Linked DNA regions of Homo sapiens: region 2 is linked to region 1. Evidence: fine-mapped expression QTL. A gene starts in region 1. The other region holds a variant in brackets. All regions are shown on one strand. Distances are between the middles of the regions. Region 1 holds the start of CAMK1 (calcium/calmodulin dependent protein kinase I). Region 2 overlaps CPNE9 (copine family member 9).

Region 1 (5,369 bases):
TTGTCATTTTCTGTAGGTCTGTCTCTTGCACATGTCTGGGATCAACTTGAAGGGCAGAGACCAGGTTTGAGTTATTTCTGCATTCCCAGCACCAAGAACAGAGCCATCTCCAGCCTCAGTTCCCAAACCTAGGCTAGAACACTTAGCTCTTGGCAGCAAGTTAAATGGACTGACTGGCACCTTCATTCTCTCGACTTCTTTCTCTTCAAGAACCCAGGGCTATTGGGAGAGCAGCCCGTGTCCCACCCACTGTCATCCAGAAGTGAAAAGCTGGGGACAGTTTAGGCCCTAGATAGTGCTGCCACAGGGCCTGGGCTGTGGGAAACAGGAAGCATTAATTGACCAGAGGAAGCCCCACCCTGGACTCAGCCTCCCTCAGCCATCCAGCACCCAATCCTGCCCTGGACTCACGTGCCCAGAACATCTCGGAAGTCGTAGATGTCTCTAATGTCCTCCGCCTGCTTCCACCTGGGGCCTTCCACTGCCCCCAGCATGGCCCACTGCCCCCCGACCACAGCCAGGGCTCCTGTAAGGAGAATGGAAGGAGGAGACTCAGCAGAGCCCAGCCCTCTGTCTGGGAATTTACTGCAGGCCCCATTCAGTCATTCAACCTGCATTTATTCATCCTTGATTCATCCATTTGACAAAATCATTCAACAAACATTCATTTGTTTATTCAACATTCAGCAAATTCTCATGCCTAGAGAAAAACCTTTCACAGTGGCAGCAAAATTCTTTATTTAACAAAGTCATGCATTCATTCATTCATTTATTCTAGTTCTCTTCCCAGTTTTCCCCCTATCCAAATCCAAGCACCTAGGGAAACCCTGACTTCTGGCAGTACAACAGATAAACCCCCAGAGCAGCTGGTAGAAGCCTGGAGGATCCCCCTGTCCCCAGAACCAGTGATGTCCCCGCCCCACCCTGGGGATTGCTGGGGTGTCTCCTTTCCCTCCTCCTTCCCCCGACTCCCCGGCCTCTCCGAAATCAGGTTTCCAGCAGCCTGGGCTTCCAGCAACATCTCAGCCACATTTTTAAATAGCTCTTTCTGCACTGTTACCACAGCAACAACAGCCACAGCTGGAGCTCCCCAGACCTCTCCCTCCTGACTCCCCATCTGGGTCCCGGGAGCATGAGAAATGGTCCTGCTCACTCTGTCCCTTCCTGGCCCCATCTAACCCTATCCAGCCTGGCCCTTCCTCTGCTGAGGTCTGTCTCATCCAGCAGGAGAGGGTGGGAGTTCTCTCCCATTTATCAGATGAAGAATGGGGAGACTGAGGTTGGAGTTAGGTAGAGGCTGGCTCCAGAGGCCCTAATGACACCTGGCCTGGGGCCCCCAGCTAAGCTTGCTGAGGGCAAAGGCCATCGAATGGCCTTGGCTGGTACTTCCAATATGAAGCCAGAATGGGCCCCATTCAGAGAACACAGCCTCCCAACCCATCCACAGATGAGGCCAAAACAGAGCCCAGCATGCTTTGTGACCTCAGGGAGAGCACTTTCCTTCTCTCTTTTTCTCTAAGGGAGAATGAGGAGAAGGTGCCCTGACTAGGGCCTCTGGTGTGAGATTCCACTCCTGGAACAGGACCTTTTTCCCAGGGGACCCTGCCCACCCATCCAGGGGCAGAATCTTCTAGGAAAGGAGACTCGAGTGTAAGCTCTAGAGGCAGAGTCTGAAACCCACATGGAGGCCTACCAAATACAACCCTCACAGATCCACACACATCCCTGTAGCAGACATGCCACACCAAGCCCCCTCCACAGCCCTGAACTCAAACACCTGCCTCCCAGATCCAGTACGCCTTGTATCCACATCCCGTGACACCTGATCATACATGTACTCCCAGACATCAGCACACATGTCCACACCACACAGTGCCCCAGACAGCCCTGCACCCGAACACCTGCCTGTCCATCCAAACATCCCTCACCCAGCTCCCTCTTACACCCCAAAACACACATCCACCCGCACCCACACAAGATGACACCCAGACACACACACACACACCCTCATATACCAGACGTACCCTACACCCTCCAGCTCCTCTACCCCATCCCCTGGAAGCTCCTGTATTCCAAACCAAACCCCAAGTCCTTACACACCTAACTCCAAACATCCTCAGTACACAATTGTACACCCCCTCCTAACTCTGACTTAAGACCCTGAGAGCCAAATACCAGCACACAAAACACGTGGACACCCCTCTGGAACAAAAAACACACAGATTCCCAGATCCTCCACCCATGTCTGACCCACACGCCTGTCCTAAGACAGTACACTCCGCAAGCCCCCCCACCCCATGGATACCTCCAAATGCCCACGCCCTTCCAGTCAGGCCCAGCTGAAGGCGCTCACACAGGCCCCCTTCTCTATTACCCACTCAGTGTCCCATAGGCCCGCCTGGCACCTGCTGGGCCTGGGACAGAGGTGGAGAAAGGCCCAGCCCTGCCCCTCAGGGTCCAGCCCGCCCGGGAGAGTGCCCAGTGGCCACTCCTTGGGAAAGGATACCCAGAGGCTAGGGGCTCCCACCGCCCCCACGCAGCGCCCAGGGGTGCAGGGATGGGGGGCCCGGCTGTACCTGCGGCTGCCCCGCCGCGGGGCTGGCTGGGAGGCCCGCGGTGGTTGGCGCCGAGCTGTGGCCGCGGTCCTCACCGCTGCGTGCCTGGGCCACCCGCCCGCGCTCTTGCTGGAGCTGGGGCTCGGCTCGGCTCGGCGGCTCTCTCCGCCCGCCTGCGGCTCTGATGTCAGTGGAGGTGGAGCCTGCGGCGGAGGGACCCGGGATTGGGAGGCGAGGCACCGCTCCAAGGCTGGGGAAGGGGCACGGGTGGAGGCCATCTCCCTGCTTCTGGTCAGAGATCTCCTGCTGGACGCTTCCCGCCCTTGGTCTTAAGCGGGGTCCATTTCACAGAGGGGACAACTGAGGCCCGGAGAGATGATTTTCAAATCAGCGGGTGGTCGGAAGCAAAGCAGGATTCGAACCCCGTCTGTCTGAAGCTAGAGGCCGGCCAAACTCACCCTGTGGCCTGGTGGATTTTCTTTCAGACCAGTTCTGCGACCTCCCTTAGGGCTCTGTCTCCCTTCTCCGTGCCCTGAAGGGAAACAGGCCCTGGAACTGCACGGGAGTCTGGTGGGGGATGGGGGAGTGAGGGAGTGGGGAAGGACCGGGCAAGACTAGGCAATGAAGAGAGTGGAGGTGGTCGCAGGGTGTGGGCCCCACTTGACAGGTGGGAAGACTGAGGCCCCGGTTCCTCTGCAAGATGGAGCTGAGGCTTCAGCCCCAGACACTTGCTCCTCAGAGCGGGTGGTGGTGCCTAGAGGTATTGGGGGCAGAGGGAATTGGGGAGGAGGAAGTTAAATCGGGATCCTGAAGGAAACAGGCCAAAAAGGACCGAGGTGTCACGTGACTGGCGGGGCTCCAGAGTTTGATGGCTGGGGTCCAGGTTAGGGGAGAGAGCCTGCAACTAGGACGGCAGGCAAGAGGCCAAAGGTCGGTTTGCTCAAGGCCTTCCTTGGGAAGAAATTTGGTGCCGAGTGGAAAGAGGGGGCGGGGGGAGCAACTCGCAGGAATTGGGGATGGGGCTGAACTGGGGGCAGCCGGAGGAGGCACGTTGCTTGGGACCCCACTCCACCTCCAAGGGCCTCCAAGTGCCACTCCCTACTCCTGAATTCTTGCATGTTCCAGCTGGTGATGGGGAGAGAACAGTGCTTATGCCCAGCTCATTTCCTTTTTCTCTTTCTTTCTTTCTTTTTTCTTTCTTTCTCTTCTTCTTTTTTTCTTTTTCTTTTTTTTTTAAGACAGGGTCTTGCTCTGTCACCCAGGCTGGAGTGCAATGGCATGATCACGGCCCACTGCAGCCTCAAACTCCTGGGCTCAAGTCATCTTCCTACCTCAGCCTCCCATGTAGATGGGACTACAGGTGCGTGCCACCACACCTGGCTTTTTTATTTTTTGTAGAGATGGGGATCTCACTATATTGCCCAGGCTGGTCTCAAACTCCTGGGCTCAAGCAATCCTCCCCAATCAGCTTCCCAAGGTTCTGGAATTACAGGCATGAGCCACTGCACCTGGCCAATTTATTATGCCCATCTTACAGATGAGAGAGGAAGATAGCTGAGGTTCCTGGAAAGGCTTTGGAGTCTAACTGATCCTGGTCATGCTTTACCTCTCCGAACCTCAGTTTCTTACTCGGGAACATGGGAATATTGAAGATTGACTCAGAGTTCTGAGAATTCTATGATATAATGATATGAAGTGCCTAGAACACTATTCAAAACATGAGAGCTAGACTCAGTGTAAACTGAGACTCAGAGAGAGGACTTGATTTGGCCAGGGATGAGGGGTTAAGGGATCCATCTTCCAAATCTCAGTATCTCAGACTCCTTAGTTCATGGAAAAATACATTTCCTGCTCAGGGCTGAGCCCCCACTCTCCCCTATACCCACCAAGCACACCCACTGAGCTAGGGGTTCTTTTACCACAAATTCCTGTTCATCTTGATGACAACACCCCCTGGGTGATAAGATGACCTCTGTCCTTTCGAGGACTTGTACAACTTCTTTTTTTTTTTTTTTTTTTTTTTTTTGAGACAGTCTCCCTCTGTTGCCCAGGCTGGAGTGCAATGGTGCCATCTCGCCTCACTGCAACCTCCGCCTCCTGGGTTCAAGCAATTCTCCTGCCTCAGCCTCCCAAGTATCTGGGACTACAGGCGTGAACCAACACGCCCAACTAATTTTTGTATTTTTAGTAGAGATGGGGGTTTCACCATGTTGGTCAGGCTGGTCTCGAACTCCTGACCTCAGGTGATCCACCTGCCTCAGCCTCCCAAAGTGCTGGAATTACAGGCATGAGCTACCGCGCCCAGCTGACTTGTACAGCTTCTATGGTGTGCTTTACATTTTTCCTGCTTTTGAGCATTTCTGAGAGGCCTCGTGTTTTCTTTTCTTTAACAAACACATTATCTTTACTTTCTTAGTATTTCTATTGAACAAGTGATACATGGTCATTGCAGGAAAATTCCATAATGTATTGAAAACACACACAGACTAACTGATGAGATTCTTTCGCTTCCCAAGTGACAGAATGCCAACCTAAACCAGCTTCATCCAAGAGGAATCTATAGTTCACAATAGCTGGCACAAGATTGCAGGAAAAACACCAGAGATTAGGGGCTTGGAGACTGGAACTGGAGATGTAGTACTCATAGGATTTGCTTTCTCTGTCTTCCCTCCTCTCTCCTTGTCTTGATTTTTCTTCACACGTTGGCCTCTTTTTCTCTCCAGAGTGAACTTCTAGTTGGCAGGAAACATGGAGTGAGGCAGCCCCAGCTTTCCAATTAAACACAGTGGAAGGAAAGCATCCTCCCAATTTCCT
Region 2 (5,369 bases), 59 kb before region 1:
ATGAGATCACCAAAGGAGGGGAGGAAGGACGGGAGAAAAAGAGAGAAAGAGGGAGACGAGAGAGAGAGAACCAAAGGCCAAGGCTCCACAAATTGGACCTAGAAAAGAAGACTGAGAAGGAGCAATTAATGAAGTAGGAGAAGAACCAAGAGAGGGTGATGTCATGGAAGCAAAGAGAAGGGTTATCAAGAAGGAGAGAGTTACCAACCACATCAAATGCTGCTACAGCTCAAATAAGATGAAGATTGGGAATTGGCCATTGCATTTAGCAAGATGAAAATCCCTGTTGACTCTTAAGCACAGTTTTGAAGGAGAGGTGGAGGTGAAGACAATGGAAGAGCGGGAAAGGAGTCAAGGAATCTTTTTTTTGAGACGGAGTCTCGCTCTGTCACCCAGCTGGAGTGCAGTGGGGAGATCTCGGCTCACTGCAAGCTCCGCCTCCCGGGTTCACGCCATTCTCCTGCCTCAGCCTCCGGAGTAGCTGGGACTACAGGCACCCGCCACCATGCCCGGCTAATTTTTTTTGTATTTTTAGTAGAGATGGGGTTTCACCGTGTTAGCCAGGTTGGTCTCGATCTCCTGACCTCATGATCCGCCCGCCTCGGCCTCCCAAAGTACTGGGATTACAGGCGTGAGCCACCGCACCCGGCCCAAGTCAAGGAAACTTTCAAGGAGTTTTACAGCAAAGGGGAGAAAAGAAAAGATGTGTGACCAGGGGCGGTGGTTCACACCTGTAATCCCAGCACTTTGGGAGGCCGAGGTGGGTGGCTCACTTGAGGTCCAGAGTTCCAGACCAGCCTGGCCAAAATAGTGAAATCCCATCTCTACTAAAAATACAAAAAACTTAGCTGGGAGTGGTGGCGCACGCTTGTAATCCCAGCTACTCAGAAGGCTGAGGCAGTAAAATCGCCTGAACCCGGGAGGCGGAGGTTGCAGTGAGCCGAGATCACGCTACTGCACTCCAGCCTGGGCAACAGAGGGAGACTCCATCTCAAAAAAAAAAAAACAAAGAAAAAAGAAAGAAAAGAAAAGAAAAAGAGATGTGGCTGAAGCAGGAAGAGAGGTCAAGAATAAGTTTATAATTTTTTTTTTTTTTTTTGAGACAGAGTCTCACTCTGTCGCCCAGGCTGGAGTGCAGTGGTGTGGTGTGATCTTGGCCCACTGCAACCTCTGCTGCCCGGGTTCAAGCGATTCTCCTGCCTCAGCCTCCCGAGTAGCTTGGATTACAGGCGCCTGCCACCGCGCCCAGCCAATTTTTGTAGTTTTTAGTAGAGACGGGGTTTCGCCACCGTGGCCAGGCTGGTCTTGAACGCCTTACCTCGTGATCCACCCACCTTGGCCTCCCAAAGTGCTGGGATTACAGACGTGAGCTGCCACGCCTAGCCAAGTTTATAATTTTTTAACATAAGGCTGGGTGAGGTGGCTCACACCTGTAATCCGAGCACTTTAGGAGGCCGAGGCCTCCTAAAGGTGGAGGCAGGTGTATCACCTGAGGTCAGGAGTTCAAGACCAGCCTGGCCAACATGGCGAAACTCTGTCTCTACTAAAAATACAAAAATTAACTGGGCATGGTGGAGCGTGCCTGTAATCCCAGCTACTAGGGAGGATGAGGCAGGAGAATCACTTGAACCCAGGTGGCAAAGGTTGCAGTGAGCCGAGATCACACCATTGCACTCCAGCCTGGGCGACAAAGCAAGACTCCATCTCAAAAAAAAAAAAAAAAGAAAAAAAAAATTTAACATGAGATAAATTATACTACATTGGCCGGGCATAGTGTAATCCCAGCTACTCTGGAGGCTGAGGTGAGAGAATCACTTGAGCCCAGTTCAGGATCAGCCTGGGCAACATAGTGAGACTCCATCTCTACAAAAAAAAAGGGAAAATTATACTACATTTACATATTGATGGGAATGACCAAGTAGAAACTGAAAACTTGATGTAATAAAAAGAGGTGAGCATTACTGAAGTGATGTTCTCGTGCAGACAAGACAGTATGAAATATAGTACACAGTGGAGGGATAAATAGGCACAAAGACACTTCATTTATAGCAACTGTAGGAGTCACACTTGTGTGGGTGAAGATACTGGTGGCAAGGTAGGTGTGGTGGTGGGTGGACATTCTCTTCTGGTTGCTTCAATTTTGTTCAGTGAGTAGGAAACAAGGTCATTGGCTGAGAATGAGGATGGGGGAGGAGGCTTTAGGGGTTGAGGAGAAAGAAGGAGTGAAACTGCCATCTACCAGAACTGGAGAGTGAAGGGCCTTGGGATGTACAGTATGACTCTGAGGTAGCAATAAGGACCCTCTTGAAGTCTGCATCATGCATTTGAAATGAGACAAGTTCGCATAATTGTGTTTTTGTCTGGCC[A/G]TGTTCAGTTTCACAGGTGCAGTGTGGGTTAGGCAGAGTGAGGCTTAACTAGAGCTGTGGTTCTGCCAAGTAAATATATCGAAAGTGAGAGAAAAGATTGGGCCAGTGGCTCACGCCTGTAATCAAAGCACTTTGGGAGGCTGAGGCAGGAGGATCTCTTGAGGCCAGGAGTTCAAGACCAGTCTGGGTAACATAGCCAGACCTTGTCTCTAAAAAAGTAAAAATTTTAAAATTAGCCAGGTGTAGTGTGTGCACTTGTAGTCTCGGCTACTTGAGAGGCTGATGTGGGAGGATCTCTTGAGTCCAGGAATTTGAGGCTGCAGTGAGCTATGATTGTGCCACTGTACTCCAGCCTGGGTAATAGTGAGACCCCAACTCTTAAAAAAAAGTGAGAGAAGGGAAAAAAGAGACAGGATGCAAGGGAATGATTATTATAATCACTGACTGGAATTCACACTGGATGGATGAGGTGGTAAGGGAGAACATCAAAGAGGCAAAGAACAGTGAGGAGGCAACAGGATCAACAATTTGTTGGTCCTGGATGTGCAAGCGAATTATTTATTTATTTTTTTGAGACAGAGTCTTACTCTGTCACCCAGGCTGGAGTGCAAGGGCTTGATCTCAGCTCACTGCAAACTCTGCTTCCCGGGTTCAAGCGATTCTCCTCCCTCAGCCTCCCGAGTAGCTGGCATTACAGGCGCCCGCCACCACGCCCAGCTAATTTTTTCTTTTTTTTTTTTGCAGTTTTAGAAGAGATGGGGTTTCACCATGTTGGTCAGGCTGGTCTCGAGCTCCCGACCTCAGGTGATCCGCCCGCCTAGGCCTCCCAAAGTGCTGGGATTATAGGCGTGAGCCATCGCGCCCAGCCGTAGGCGAATAGAACCTATTCTCATCACACTCCCTCTTTGCAAAGCACAAAGAGTCAAAGATCAAAGGAGCCAAAGAAATAGTTCAACTCTCATTCTAAGGATAGGGAAAATCACATAGCAAGTTAGAGCCAGGACTGGAACCCAGGACCCTCCTGACCTAGTTTTCTCTCTGCCACATTTTGGATCCCTTTGGGAATCAGGGTTCACAGGCCCCTATCAACAAGGTCTCTTACTGCTGGGGATGGGGGTTCTCGTATGCACCATTCAAGCACATGGAAGTGTTCCTTCTAGGGTCAGGAAAGGATAAAGTTTCCCTTGTCTTTTAAATCTCCCTCTCCATGGTCTTCAGAAAGCACATCAGCTTTGACCTAACAAGCTAGCCCTTTTGTCCCTGGGTCTGGACAGAAATTCTTCTCCCTCATTCAGTATCACTACAATCCACTCTACTTACCTATTGGCATTGACATTCCACCTACCCCCGCCCCCAAAGCTCCCTGCGGGCAGTCTAGCAGAGCCGGAGAGAGCCAGTTGCCCAATTCATATCTATCACAGCACCCAGCATATAGTAAGAACCAGAGTCAGCTTTGAAGACTACAACCAGCTCATATCTATAAGGCTTACGAGTTGCTTTTCCTTCCATGCACTCATTCAGATCTGTTCACAGCCCTGACAAGTCATCATGATTCCCATTTCATAGAGAAAAAGACTAAGGCCGAGGAAGGGTAAATAACTTGCCCAGGGTCACACAGCTTAACAATCATAAAATCCACTGGCTCTAAATCCCATGTCTTTCTCATGCTACTGTTGTGAGATGTTCACCTAAGCTGTTCTAACCCCTTTTCACCAGACTGCAGACCCCACCCAGTCAAAGTGAGGCCCTTCCTCACCAGAAGGCACTCAAGACACAAGGGACTGTCAGTAAATGGCAAACTGAATCCCCTGGCCCACCTAACCCCAGACTGGCCACTCAATCCTTGTTGCCTACCCTCCCTCCTCTCACTAAGAGGCTTTTTCTGCTTCCAGGGGTGTACCAGGCAAGAAGTGTGGGACCATATTGCTGACTGCAGAAGAGCTTAGCAATTGTCGGGTCAGTAAGGGCCACATGCTAGACCCAGGAGCTCCCTTCTCTCCCCGTAAACCCTTTAATGGACTGTCTGAAGGCTATGGACAATTGGGGTGCCACCAGCCCAACTTCATCCATCCCTAGGACATTGCCACCATGCAGCTGTGTGCAAACAAGCTGGACAAGAAGGACTTCTTTGGGAAATCAGACCCCTTCCTTGTGTTCTACAGGAGCAATGAGGATGGCACGTGAGTCACTGCCATCAGGGCTGTTAGGCTGGGGTGGGCCATGTGCTTAACAAGTGGGGGAATCTCAGGAATCTCTGAGAGCATCTGGATTCAGTCCTACCCCGGGCACGAGATAAATTATACCAATTCTTCCCACTCCCCTCCAGGTTCACCATCTGCCACAAGACAGAGGTTGTGAAAAACACGCTGAATCCTGTGTGGCAGCCCTTCAGCATCCCTGTGCGGGCTCTGTGCAATGGAGACTATGACAGGTTGGCTCCAGCATAAGCTGGGGAGTAAGGAGCCAAGGACATGCCAGTGTGGTTCCTGGGCCCAAGAATGATAGTAGAAGTATCATAATAGCGTTGGAGGGTCCTGCTCAGTGAGACAGAGTTTGGGGCATGAGGTTGGGTGGATGGACAGGCAGATGGATAGCCACACAGATGGATAGGTGGACTATCCAGGGATGGATCGACTGATGGATGGAATGGTAGGTGGATGGGTAGATGAAAAGGCAGATGAACAAATGAATAAGCAGATACATGGATGGATCGTTGGATGGGTAAACTGGTGAATGGTTGGATATGTATGTGGATGGATATATGAGTGAATTGATGGGTGGGTAGAGGGGCAGATAAATGAATGGACAGCAGAAGAATGGATAATTGGACTGATGGGTGGGTTTGTGGATATACAGGTGATGGGTGATTAACGGATGAATGAGCTGATGGATGGGTGGGTGATAAATTGGTAAATGAGAGTTTGATGGATGACTGGGGAGGCAGGAGGATGAATAGAAAAGCAGGTGGAATACAAAAAGATAGGTAGAGTGACAAGTGGATTG

What was found. PIP is the estimated chance that this variant, and not a neighbour inherited with it, causes the effect. A credible set is the group of variants that fine-mapping cannot tell apart.
Region 2: its variant is the best candidate, but not a certain one, in a credible set for the expression of CAMK1 in whole blood (INTERVAL, PIP 0.64).

What each region holds. Positions count from the first base shown.
Region 1 is chr3:9,767,256-9,772,624 of GRCh38, forward strand. It overlaps CAMK1 (calcium/calmodulin dependent protein kinase I), which reads right to left and starts at 2,692. Exons shown (of 12, transcript NM_003656.5): 1 at 2,577-2,692; 2 at 412-526. The coding sequence starts at 494. It also overlaps a transcript of OGG1 not described here. RefSeq lists a silencer at 2,463-2,642.
Region 2 is chr3:9,708,283-9,713,651 of GRCh38, forward strand. CPNE9 (copine family member 9) reads left to right here. Exons shown (of 21, transcript NM_153635.3): 8 at 4,259-4,322; 9 at 4,443-4,546; 10 at 4,693-4,797. Among named protein-coding and RNA genes, the nearest start is that of CPNE9, 7.1 kb to the left of the region's middle. The variant A/G (reference allele first, on the strand shown) is at 2,367.